Homo sapiens: one gene and its partners. The protein of the gene in region 4 purifies or fractionates together with the protein of the main gene of each other region. This does not show direct contact. Each region holds a gene or a part of one and is shown on either strand. Other genes may lie near its edges.

Region 1 (3,500 bases), on a different chromosome or scaffold from region 4:
GATTTTTTTAGTATGAACTTGAGATGATTTAAGAAAAAAAAATTTCATTTTGTTTTTTGAGATGGAGTCTCACCCTGTCACCCAGGCTAGAGTGCAGTGGCACAATCTCCGCTCACTGCAACCTCCGCCTCCCAGGTTCAAGCAATTCTTCTGCCTCAGCCTCCTGAGTAGCTGGGACTACAGGCACATGCCACCACGCCCAGCTAATTTTTGTATTTTTTAGTAGAGATGAGGTTTCACCTTATTGGCCAGGCTGGTCTCAAACTCCTGACCTCGTGATCCGCCTGTCTCGGCCTCCCAAAGTGCTGGAATTACAGGTGTGAGGCACCGTGCCCGGCCAAAAGATATTTTTTTTTTTTTTAACAAAACAGTTTCTTTAAAGTTAGTAAGCCTCTTCCGATCTGTTTGGTTTCCTTCAGTTCTATGTGTCAGTAACCACAGTCGAAGTTCACATGTATTGGTAAACTCATCCAAAGATTTAAGAGCGTCTATTCCTCCTCCTCTCATTTGGTTGTTTGAGGCTATTAGGTTTGATGGGAAGGCTACGTCTTTAATATGGTCTTAACCACAGAAGCACTAGTTAGCTAAGGGGTTTCAGTGGGCATCTGTGCTCAGTCTTTTAATCCTGCCTCTAGGGGTCTAGGTACAAGCTGCTTTTCCAATCCTTCAAGGCTTTAAATTTCTGAACTTTTTCTATTCTCTTCTGTTTTTGCTTTCAAATCTACTACTTCCTTCTTGAACTCATCATTTACTTATAATACTTGCCAAATATCTAATAGCAGCCAATACTCACTTCCAAAATCCTCTTTACCAAACTCCTATAACACTACAAGGTCAGTAGCCTCTTTGTATGTTCACTGACCTTGTAGTTGTATGAAAAGTTATTATAGGCAACAGCGTTACCAGATATTTTGCCACTATAAAACATGATCCTCCATCTTTCCAGCCTCCGGTATCTGTTTCCTCTCAGCCCTTAATCTGACCACTAAGGCAGTATCACTAAGGCAGGACTGCATAGGTTTTTATTGTAGCAGCACCTCACTTCCAGGTACCAGTTTTCTGTATTAGGATAATGAAACACTGAATATACAGATGGACAATGGCCAGATCATATATAAAACTAGAACTCTGACCCATGACCTATGTAGCAATAGGCCCAGTCAGGACTTGGTCAGTAATTACCAGCTTCCCTAATTTTTGTGCCTTCTTCCAATTCGGGACGACTCAGAGAAAGCCAAATATGCTTCCCAAATCAACCACATAGGATACCCCGCTTCCAGTGTCGACGAAGAGTCAAACTCTGTAAAATATTTTAAGAGATCTATTCTAAGCCAAATATGAATGGCTATTGCCCCATGACACAGCCCTCAGGAGCTCCTGAGAACATGTGCCCAAGGTGATCAGACTACAGCTTGGTTTTATACATTTTAGGGAGACATAAGACATCAATCAGTATATGTAAGATGTACATTGGTTAGGTCCAGAAAGGAAGACACCTTGAAGCAGATGGCTTCCAGGTCATAGGTAGATTCACAGATTTTCTGATTGGCAGTTGGTCGAAAGAGTTGTTACTGTCTAAAGACCTAGAATCAATAGAAGGGAGTATCTAGGTTAAGATAAGGGGTTGTGGGCAGGCACAGTGGCTCACGCCTGTAATCCCAACACCTTGGGAGGCCGAGGCAGGTGGATCACGAGGTCAGGAGTTCAAGACCAGCTTGGCCAACATAGTGAAACCCCATCTCTACTAAAAATACAAAAATTAGCGAGGCATGGTAGCGCACGCCTGTAATCCCAGCTACTCAGGAGGCTGAGGCAGGAGAATCACTTGAAACCGGGAGGCGGAGATTGTGGTGAGCCAAGATCAAGCCACTGCATTCCAACCTGGGCAACAGAGTGAGACTCCATCTAAAAAAAAAAAAAAAAAAAAAAAAAAGATAAGGGGTTGTGGAGACCAGGGTTCCCATTATGCAGATAGAATCAATAGGAAGGAATGTCTGAGCCAAGGTAAGGGGTTGTGGAGACCAAAGTTCCCATTATGTAAAGGAAGCCTCCAGGTGGCAGGCTTCAGAGATAATACATTGTAAATGTTTCTTATCAGGGTTGATTCTCTCCTGGATCAGGCAAAAGGCCTGAGAAAGGAAGGGAATTAACTTCAGAATGTAGATTTTCCGCACAAGAGACAGCTTTGCAGGACTGTTTGAAGATATGGCAAAGAAACATAATTTGGGGTCAAATACTTGGATTTCTTTCAGGGCCTGCCATCTGTCATGTGATACTATGCTAGAGTCAGGCTGGAATTGGGTATCTTATTGCTACAGAGAGTCTGTTTTGTCAGTCTTAAGATTTGTTTTAATGTTAGTGCTGGTCAGCTGTGCCTGAATTCCAACAGGGAGGAGGGAATAATGAGGTATGGCCAAACTCCGCTTCCCATCATGGCTGGAACTAGTTTTTCAGGTTAACTTTCAAATGCTCTTGGCTGGGAGGAGGGGTTCATTCAGATGGTTGAAGGACTTAGAATTTTATTTTTGGTTTACATCAGTTAGCCCACCTCCAGTTTCCCATGCCAACAACCTACAATCAGAGCATACCTGATGTCTTCCCCCTTTTTTTAGTATAAAGATTTCCCACTCCCCTGCTTGCCTTTGAATCTTTGCCAAGCACAAGTTGACAGTGGCTGACTCCCTACCTATATAGTAAGATCTAATTAAATAGCCTTTGTTTGTTTCCATTTGGGCAGTCTTTGTCTATTTTCACAATGTTATTAGGCTGTTTTGTGGTAACAAATCCCCAAATATCAATGGCTTAACACAACAGAAATGTTTCTCTTGCTCAGAGTTCAGTGGGAGTCAGTAGGGTTCTCCATCCAGTGGCTTAGGGATCCACCTTCCTTCCATATTGTCAAGCCACCATCTCAGAATGTAACCTACATTGTCATTAAAGCAGGAAAACCGAAGCAAAGTGACTTTTAACTGCCTCAGTCCAGAATTGAGATATGTTACATCTGCTCATCCAGCTTTGGCCAAATCTGGGAAATGGAGTCGAGTACTGTATGTGAATATAGTCTCTGCCAGAATATATTTACCAAAAGCAATTGGCTAAAGATATACACAATTCCTCCATTTCAGCGTTTTTGAGATCAGAAGATTTAGATTATCTTACAATTGAAATTTTTTTTTTTTTTTTTTTTGAGATCCAGTCTCGCTCTGTCGCCCAGGCTGGAGTGCAGTGGTGCAGTCTCGGCTCACTGCAACCTCTGCCTCTGTGGTTCAAGCGATTCTCCTGCCTCAGCCTTCCGAGTAGCTGGGACTACAGGTGCCTGCCACCACGCTCGGCTAATTTTTGTGTTTTTAGTAGAGACGGGGTTTCACCATATTGACCAGGGTGGTCTTGTACAATTAAAATTGAAATGAATATTCAAATGTAATGCTTCTGTTATTTCCCCTGATAAATGAAGTGACATTGTTTCATGGAAATAATAGTTTCTTTAAAATGAATCCTGT
Region 2 (2,171 bases), on a different chromosome or scaffold from region 4:
TGAGTATGTACCATGTCCAGCCTCCAGCAATAGTGGGACAGGAGGGCCAGGGGCAGTTCCCCAGGGAATTTCTTAGAACCAGAGCACAGAGCGTTGGAGAACTCCCAAGGTGGCTCACTCTGCTTCACTCGTCCCCTGCCACTTGTCTTATATAAGGAGATAGAGGCTGTCAGTCAGACAGGCAAGGCCTTAAGTCCAGTAGGCCAAACTCTGGGGGATAAAACATAATCATATCACAGGGGTATTGAGGACAATCCACATATATAAATCCTTAGGTCAGGGCTTCTGAAAAAAGTCGTGTAAAAAAAAAATAATAAAAGGTCTCAGCTCCAGGTCATCGGCCTGCGATGGGGATGGGGGAGCTGAAAGAGGCACTCAGGGGTGGGGGGGTCTCAGCCCAGCCCCTCTATGAAACAGTTTTTTCCAGCGTGGGGCGCAGAGTTACACCTGGCTGATGATCTCTCCTTTTTCAGGTACAAAGACTTGCACAGGGGCCCCATCAGGCGATCTCCGCAGCACACAAACTGTGGGCACCTGCCAGGGTCAGGAAGAAAGGACAGGTGGGTAAATGAACCAGGCAGAAAAGCGGGGACAGCAGGCACAGTTACACCATCCTTATCCCTTAGGGACACTGACCAGCAGAAGCAGCAGCAGCAGCAGGCCCTGGCACTCAGCCCCTTCCTCCCAGGATGCTCTCTGTTCTTCAGGGACCCCCTTTACACATTTTCCTCCATGTTCTTTTGGGGTGTGACAGGCGCCCTGACCTCCTCCTCCCCCACCTTTCCTGGGCTCACTTCTCATCACCCTCCCTGTCTGGCACGTTGGGATGGGCTGGGTCTATCCAGCCAAGGACAGGCCCAAGCGCGCAGAAAGGGAAAAGCACGTCAGCTGGAGGGCGCGGCCTCGGACCGGGGCCAGGGTGCTGCCAGGCCCAGGATGCCAGCTGCAGTCCAAAGAACCGTGGGTGGGGGAGGGACACGCAGCTGGGTCTGCTGGGAATCTGGGGTCTCAAAGAAGCAGCTTGTTGGTAACTTCTGGAGCACATCACCTGCAGAGCCCTCCGTACCAGGGAGAAAGAATAAAGAAAGGATTCCTGTGTGTGGCTCCCCACTTCCAGAATGAAGAAATAGGGGCCAAGGAAACCAAGGCTGCCACCCTACCCAGTGTCAGGGTGCTCTATCCTATATACTACCCTCCAGCCTGCTCCCTGGCCTCTGTGGCCCCAGATGATAATAATATCACATATCTAGCGCTTACCATGCATTGCTCTAATCATTTCAGCCTCTTGGCAGCCCTATGAGATAGGTACTCTACTACTCTCATTTCACAGGGGAGGAAACACTAGGTCCAAAGGGGTTAAGTAACTTGCCCAATCATACAGCTCGTAAGTGGCAGAACTGGGATTTGAACCTGGTGGTCTAGCTTGAGGGTGGGTGCTCTTAACTCTGATGCCACCCTTCTTCTCGGCTTGGTGGTGAGGAGGGGTGTCAGGGAGGATGCTGATGCCCAGAAAATCACAGGTTCTGGCTTCTGCAACTCATTTCCTACTCTCCCTTTGTCCTAGACCTTCAAATGGAAATCTGAGGGGCTGATTTGGACTGGACTTTTGATTATGAAGAGGCTTATCTGCTTTGTGCATCATCATTTAGGGAGAGAAAAAGTCTCAGCTATCTTCGGGGATCATCTCCACCAGTGTATATGCTCTTGAGCTAGACATGGCAGGCAAAATTAGGAGGTGCCCCAGGGAAGCCAAGAGTGCCTTCCAAAGCCAAGAGGAAATGATTTTTTGGCCTGTTCTTCCTAGACGGGGATTACCCGGCCACTAGGTTGCTGCTTTGATGCCTCTGTACCCTTGGACATACTAGAATTGCAGCCCCTCCCCAACAAAACAGCCCTCCTGCCTGGCCCCGGGGTCCCTCCAGAGCAGCCGTACCTGTGCCCGGGGTCCCAGGGCTCGTCCGAAGCCCTCTCTCCCAAGGGGCAGGCTCCTGACCCGGAAAGCTCCTTGGCGGTCCAGTGAGTGGGGGCGGGTGCTCCGGAGGCGTGCACGCTCGTGCCACCACTTGAGCTCCTCGGACACGGCGGCCTTGCTGAGCCCCCGGCCTGCCGGGCTGTCCTTCAGGGAGGGCGTCCGCACGATGCGGCTGCGGGAGGGCACCAGACGCTGGTAG
Region 3 (3,500 bases), on a different chromosome or scaffold from region 4:
ACAGTTAGACACATCATCCCAGAGGTCGCTGGGCTCCATGCTGTCCTGTCTGACATGGCTCCCTTCACCCAGGAATCAGGGATAGTGAAAGAAAAGAACAAAATATAAAGTGAATTTTCACTCTTCAATAACTCAACAGATCCACAGCTTAAAACAGCAAAGTCATTCCAATCAGCTCCTGACATATCAGGACAGAGAATCCCCGCTGAGCTGCTCCATAGGGGCAGCCTGCTGTTCCTAGTTTGGAGACACACGTGGTGAGGTTGGCGCTAGCACCAAGGTAGAAATGACGGTGAAGAATCACAGGACACCATGCACCGTGCTGAGCTGGCAGGAAGGCACTGCAGGCAGGAGAGGCTGGAAGAACTGCGGGGACAGCACTCCTAGCGCTTAGGCCATAATCAAAAGGTAACAACTGCCTGACACATGTTTTAAGATGAGCATGGAAAACTTAGGAGGATTTAAACAACATGAACAAAGGTTACTTCAATGCCAGAAAATGAGAATGAATTAAATGATTTAGAGTTAGTTTTGAGTTAGAGAAAAAAGACTAAGTGATGATATTAAAATAACTACTTCAAGAATCTCAGCCATAAAGAAGATAATAATCAGCTGTTTTTGGCTTTTCCAAATGGCAGAACTATAGGAAATGGAGTTCAATGATACACTACATAGATGCAGGTTGGCTATAAGAGAGGGCTCCTTGGGAGGCTGTGACTCTTTTATTTATTTTATTTTATTTGAGACAGAGTTTCGCTCTTGTTGCCCAGGCTGGGGCGCAATGGCGCGATCTCAGCTCACCGCAACCTCTGCTTCCCGGGTTCAAGCGATTCTCATGCCTCAGCCTCCCAGTAGCTGGGATTACTGGCATGCATCACCACGCCCGGCTAATTTTGTTATTTTTAGTAGAGACGGGGTTTCTCCACGTTGGTCAGGCTGGTCTCGAACTCCTGACCCCAGGTGATCCGCCCACCTTGGGCTTTCAAAGTGCTAGGATTACAGGCGTGAGCCACCATGCCCAGCCAAATCTTTTATTTTTTAAGGCTTGCTTTAATGAGGCAGGTGATGGTTCCCCACAAAGGCCCCGTGACACCTTGTAGCCTACTGTCTTAAAAATATAGTAGGCCAGGCACGGTGGCTCACACCTGTAATCCCAGCACTTTGGGAGGCGGAGGCAGGCGGATCACCTGAGGTTGGGAGTTTGAGACCAGCCTGACCAACACGGAGAAACCCCGTCTCTACTAAAAATACAAAATTAGCCAGAGGTGGTGGTGCGTGACTGTAATCCCGGCTACTCGGGAGGCTGGAGGCAGGAGAATCACTTGAACCCAGGAGGCAGAGGTTGCAGTGAGCCGAGATCACGCCATTGCACTCCAGCCTGGGCAACAAGAGCGAAACTCTGTCTCAAAAAAAAAAAAAAAAAAAAGTAAACCTGAAATCCACTACCTTAAAAAAAAATGCATATCACACTATTCCTTTTGGAAGGGAAGGATGTCACACCAATTTATAAAATAATGGAGTGACAGATAAAAATTTCAAAATGATTAGGAGCCACTAGGATGGGAAATTTAGTTGCTTGCAATGGGGTTAGTGACATCTACACATAGAAAGTGCATGTGGCACACTTCAGACAATACCTTTCTGGTAATATTTGGAATTGTGAGTCCACCTGAACCCAGTGCAGAGGCCGAAATCTGTGAGTTTAATGTGACCATCCAGATCTATCAAAATGTTATCAGGCTTGATGTCTCGGTGGATGAAGCCCATCTTGTGGACACTCTCAATGGCCAAAGTCAGCTCTGCGATGTAGAACCGGGCCAGGTGCTCAGGGAAGACCTCCATCCGGATCAGCAGGCTCATCATGTCCCCACCAGGGATGTAGTCCATCACAAAGTACAGGCTGTCTTTGTCTTGGAAGGAGTAGTAGAGTTTGACCACCCACTCATTGTCTGCCTCGGCCAGGATGTCCCTCTCGGCCTTGACGTGGGCCACCTGATTCCGGTTCAGGACATCCTTTTTCCTTAGGGTCTTCATGGCGTACAGGGCGTGAGTGTCCACCTTACAAGCAAGGCACACTTCTCCAAAGGCACCGATCCCCAGGGTTTTGATCTTGACAAACATAGACTTGTCCATCTTGGCCCTCTTTAACCTGTTGTAATTAGACTCTTTCTGGTAGAGGATCTTCCGCATCTGCTCCTGCTCAGCTTCACAGAGTCCAGCCTGTGTAGAAGGAAAAGGAAGGAGGAAGAATCACATTAGAGAAGTCCCATGATAACAAATGACTGGGATGGGGATGCCCTGGAACTGAGAGGAACCTAGCTCATTTTACAGAAAGGAGAACAGAGAAGAATGGGTCTCATATACTACAGAGTCTCGCTCTGTCGCCTAGGCTGGAGTGCAGTGGCACAATCTCAGCTCACTGCAGCCTCCGCCTCCTGGGTTCCAGCGATTCTGCTGTCTCAGCCTCCCGAGTAGCTGGGACTACATGTGCCCGCCACCATGACACCTGGCTAATTTTTGTATTTTTAGTAGAAACAGCGTTTCATCATGTTGGCCAGGCTGGTCTTGAACTCCTGACCTCAGGTGATCTGCCCACCTTGGCCTCCCAAAGTGCAGGGATTACAGGCTTGAGCCACTGTGCCCGGCCAGTTTTGTTTTTTTATATCCATATATAGACATGAATATGGAATGAAAAGTTAAGATAAAAAAGAAAGTTCTTTCTCTAGGATACTTTTGGCTCTAAAAACTAAGGGAAACTTCTATTAACACAAATCTGTGGAAAAGGGGACCACAGCATTCCTAGAACTCCAAGAGCCATCTAATCTTTCAGTAACTCAGGGAAAATGGGAAAGCAGGAAGAAAAGTCAACAATCAGCATACAAAAATCAGTAGCATACATTAGATAGACTTGTATATGGTGAGAGATAGGGTCTAGTTTCATTCTTCTGCATATGGATATCTGGATTTCTGTACACCAATAATGAATGCCATTTACAACAGCTATAAAAAAAATCTAGGAGTAAATTTAACCAAAAAGTGAAAGAGCTCTACAAAGAAAACTACAAAACACTGAAGAAAGAAACTAAAGAGGACACAAACAAATGAAAAGAGATCCCATGTTCACCGACAGAAAGATTTAATATTGTTAAAATGACCATACTACCCAAATCAATCTACCAATTAAATGCAATCCCTATCAAAATACCAATGATATTTTTCACATTACTAGAAAAAACAATACTAAAATTCACAGGGAGCCCAAATACTCAAAGCAATCCTAGGCAAAAAGAACAAAATTGTTACCTGACTTCAAAATATGTTACAAGCCTAGAGTAACTGAAACTGCATGGTATTGGTATAAAAACAGACACATAGACCAATGGAACAGAATAGAGAACCCAGAAATAAGTCCACGTATTTACAGCCACCTGATTTTTGACAACGGTGCCAAGAATGTACACTGAAAAAGAGACATGCTGGGAAAACTAGATATCCATATG
Region 4 (4,059 bases):
ATTCTGGCATGACTACCTGTTGAATGAAATTATGTTCTTATAAAATGCCCTAGCCTCCCCTACTAAATCGGCATAATTATCTGTATAATCAGAAATATTCAACAAATTCTGATAGACTATCAAAAACACAAAATTCTTTTCCTTAACAGAATAACATAAAAAATATGCAAGGTAAATCATCGTGACCATTCTAATTAAATGGCTTAAACAGTTCAAAAGTACTGCAGACCCATAGTATATCAAGTTGTTTTTCTTTCAGAATTTGTAAGTTGATCCTGCAGAAGAATCCACACACTCCTATTGGCCTGTGTAACATCTCTCTTTCCATATGTTTGGTAAGTGTGTAACAAAACTGACAGGAGTTAATAGTTACTCCAAATATACGTTCCCATCAGCTCTTACTCTATTTAGTAAGATTTAGTCACTTAATTGCCCTAAAAGAAAATATAATCAAATTTAAACTGAGTATATAATGGTGACTCTGATCTCAACAGAGTATCTTTTAAAACTCTGAGATCCAGAAATATTTGTAAGTCGTCAAATTTATGTCTCTGAATATTTAAGACCTAACAGCTGCAAGGAAAATTGGAAAAATAAAAAGCTATCTTAGTCAAAACTATTTGTCCCTATCCAATGAATTGTTTATCCAGTTTCCTGAAAATAGTTCATAATAATTACTAATCCATTAAGAGTTTAAAATAAAGGACATGCTTGACTTGTGAAAAAAGTAGTGATATGGATAGCCAAGTCATATAATTTCACTCCACTTTCTATTTACTTTACCCAGACATTACATATTCTTGTAATCCTTTCCGGTAAACACAACTGAGATAATATAGTAAAGCATGTAAACCGAAGAAGAGAACCTAGAATGCCTAAATATTTCAAGAATTTATTGTTATTTCAATTACCTGAAACTCCAAGTATCAGAAAGCAGAAAGAATTACCACACAACTGTAAAAGTCAAATATTTATACAGGTGCCTTAAAAGCCGCAGTTGGGTGCACACCATCAGCACTGACATTTACTATCTGTTAAGTAGTTTCAAAGTGCAATAGCATAAGTCAAATAACTGGCTTGGAGCGTGAAGTTTATGACAACAACTAGCACGTCTGGAGACACTGGGAAGGTGTGATGCCTGTCACAATTTTCATCAGGCCAGCAACAGGCAGCCAGGCTGCGGCAAGACCGAACCTCAGCACAGGTGCCTTTTCTCATTTCAGGAGGGAAACCTAGGCCCGTAGCTTCACGGATAATTGAACAAGGATTGTTCCATAAATTTATAATGTTATTTATAACTTTCTTGTAATTGCCTTTTAGTAGCTTTCAAAAACAACATTTTTAGGGCAAAAGTAACTGAGATTATAAAGTAGTTAGGTATTTCAGCTTCAAATTGAGAAAAGGGAAAATGTTAAATAGGAGAAGCACCTAAAAAGTATATAAAGCCCAAAGGGCCACATTCAATAAAGTTATAATTTTCAGAAATGACAAAAGTCCAAATGTCGAAGTTATCCCTGGTGGCACGTTATTTAAATTTACAATTAGGAATATCTCCTTAATGGATAATTTACAAATTTATAATTAGGAATACCTCCTATTATTCTTACAATAATTCTAAGAAATTTTAAGGGTAAAAAAAATATGGGACACAGAAACATTTGTGAACCTTCAGTTCCTGAACCAATTTAAAAAACAAAAAACAAAGAAACCAGGCTAAGCTCAAATCAGAGTGCCTCAATACCCAACGTTAATTTCACTACATCTCCCTTCCAAACACAATATGCCTGTTCCCGATCTGGGAGTCGGTTCAAGTTTTCAGGTGAAGACTAACGACAGACAGCGAAACCCCCAAACGCGCGTTTTTAAACTCTGAGGGGCAAAGTCAGTCACACCCACTAGCAGGGCCCGGCGGGGGGCGGGAGCCCCTTCCCAGCTCGGGACCTCCGGCCAGTCTGGGCGCCCCCGCCAAGAGCTCGCAGCCCAGGCTCCCGCGCCAAGGACGGCCTGAGGGATGCCACAGGTGGCCCGGAGGGCTCGTTCCCCAACTGGCAGTGAGGCCCTAGCCCACCCCCGCCGCCCAGAGGCCGAAGGTGTCCTGCAGCCTCCACGTGGGCACCTCGAAGCCTAGGGAAGTTCCTAACAGGGCTCAGGTGGCCCCTCGGGTCCGTTAGCCTGGCGCGCGGCGTCGGCCCGGGGCAGCGACTCCAGCCTTGCCTCGGGGCCGGGTCCCCGGAGGGGCGTCGGGAAGCCGGTGGGCGGAGGAGCCCGGGTACGGGCGGCTCCTCGGCCCCGCCGGAGCAGCCAGCCCCACATCCCTCCCGGGACCCCTCGGGGCACCGCGGGCCGGCGCCGCCCCAGCCCCCCGCGCGGCCGGGTCTCCGGGACAACAGCCGCCGTGTCCGAACGGGCCCGCGCCCCCGCGGCCGGCGCCCACCTGTCCCGGGGGTCGATCCAGCTGGTCCTCCTGGTGTTGTGGTCAATGTAGAAGACCTTGCCGTCGTAGTCCCTGGCCTCCTCCCAGCCCCGGGGCAGCGGCAGCTGACCGCTCCCGGCCCTCCTAGGCATGGTCGGCGGCCTCGCCGGCGAGCGGCGCCTCCATAGGTACCGGGCGCGGGACGCGGCGGGAACGCGGCTGCCGGGCTAGGCTGCCAACCCGCGACGCGGGCGCCGGCGAGGGGCTGAGGGGCGCAGGGCGCGGGGCGCGGCGGAACCACGCGCGGGAGGTGCCTCAGGAAACGCTGTTCGCGGCCCCGCTGCGGATCAGTCCACCATGTCTGCGTCGGAGCCGGCGAGCGAACCCTCCTCCCCCTCGCCGCCGCTGCCTCCGCCTCTTCCTCCTCCTCCGCCCCGTCCCCCTCTGGCCGCCGAGGGTCGCGGCGCCCAGGCTGCCGGAGCCGCCGCCGTCTGGGCTCGGATCCGGGAAGCTGCGGCGCTGCCGCGGCAGCGGCGGGCCCCTCATTTGCATGCGATTAGCATGCGCCCGCCCGCCTCATCTGCATGCGCATTCCTCGCGCCGCATTCCTGAGCTTAACCCCGCCGCTGCCGGCGTCGCCGCACCAGCTCGGACGCACTGCCCCGCGGGGCCGCGGCTCCAGGTGGGAGGAAGGCGGGCGAAGGAATGTGCGGCCAGCTCCCTCCCCTTGACCCCAGATAGCTCCCCTGGGCCAAACGCCGAGAGGTTTTAGAGTTTCTGGACGGGGAAGATTGCAAAAGTCTCCGCAACCTTCTCAACCTCTTTCGTCTTCTAGGGAAACCACAAAACTTTCGAGAGGAAAGGGGTGGCGGGCGGGGAGCTCTCCTCCGGAGAAAAAACCTCAACAAGCGGAGAGGGCACAAAGGCTCCCCACGCCGCGCCCCGAGCCCCTCCGGCACCCCAAGGGCGGTCCGGGGTGGTGGGAAAGCGCCAAGCCCTGGGAGTGCGTCGGTGGGTCCGGGACGGCGGGGCCTCCGCCAGGGCTCCTGGCCCTCGATGACCTCGGCTGAGACCGCGAGCCGCGCGGCGGAAAGCGGAGGAACTCCCGTCCGGCCCTGTAGCCGCCCGCACCGCGCCCCGTCACCCGCCGCCCCTTCGCGTCCGGGCGCTCCAGCCGCGGGGCCCCGGAAGCTCCTGGTCCCTGGCCTCCCCTGCTTGGTTCGGGGCGGTTGGCCGTGGACGCGCCCCGACTCTAGTCCCTTCCGTCCAGCCGCCCGCCCCAGGATGTCCCCCCACCGCAGCCCCGCCGTGGCCAGGAGGTGTGGGCGGCCACGCCGGAGGGACCCACGGCGGCGCCGGACGCCCGCCCTTCCTAGGCCCTGGCCCGGCCGGGGTGGGCCGGGACGTTCCCTGTTGCATAGGCATTTATTTATTCAGCAGCTACTACGTACGTGCTGGCCCGCACTGCCGAGGGACCGGACGCCTGCCCCAGGCGGGACAATGCCGGGTGCAGCGCTGGCGGGGCCTGGACGCCAAGCTTCAGGGTCCCCAGCCCCTCAGTCAGAGGGGGCGCCTCCCAGGCCCTGGACTCCTCTCCAGCCGGGTCTACACCACCGTCCCCCGTCATCTTCTTCTGGGTTACTGAG

Evidence for each region. Proteins that work in one complex are often made in the same cells at the same time.
Region 1: the proteins of WWC2 (region 4) and LATS1 purify together in Homo sapiens (affinity purification with western blotting, with the first as the bait; one study listed by BioGRID). This does not show direct contact.
Region 2: the proteins of WWC2 (region 4) and INAVA purify together in Homo sapiens (co-immunoprecipitation; one large-scale study listed by IntAct). This does not show direct contact.
Region 3: the proteins of WWC2 (region 4) and LATS2 purify together in Homo sapiens (affinity purification with western blotting, with the first as the bait; one study listed by BioGRID). This does not show direct contact.

The regions. Positions count from the first base shown.
Region 1 is NC_000006.12:149,708,102-149,711,601, reverse strand, and holds part of LATS1 (serine/threonine-protein kinase LATS1), read left to right. Parts: intron 1-3,500. UniProt on the Homo sapiens protein: Negative regulator of YAP1 in the Hippo signaling pathway that plays a pivotal role in organ size control and tumor suppression by restricting proliferation and promoting apoptosis.
Region 2 is NC_000001.11:200,911,900-200,914,070, reverse strand, and holds part of INAVA (innate immunity activator protein), read right to left. Parts: coding exon 1,934-2,171; intron 535-1,933; coding exon 442-534; 3' UTR 1-441. UniProt on the Homo sapiens protein: Expressed in peripheral macrophages and intestinal myeloid-derived cells, is required for optimal PRR (pattern recognition receptor)-induced signaling, cytokine secretion, and bacterial clearance.
Region 3 is NC_000013.11:20,981,587-20,985,086, forward strand, and holds part of LATS2 (serine/threonine-protein kinase LATS2), read right to left. Parts: intron 2,221-3,500; coding exon 1,638-2,220; intron 63-1,637; coding exon 1-62. UniProt on the Homo sapiens protein: Negative regulator of YAP1 in the Hippo signaling pathway that plays a pivotal role in organ size control and tumor suppression by restricting proliferation and promoting apoptosis.
Region 4 is NC_000004.12:183,097,998-183,102,056, reverse strand, and holds the start of WWC2 (protein WWC2), read right to left. Parts: upstream 2,801-4,059; 5' UTR 2,566-2,800; coding exon 2,435-2,565; intron 1-2,434. UniProt on the Homo sapiens protein: Regulator of the Hippo signaling pathway, also known as the Salvador-Warts-Hippo (SWH) pathway.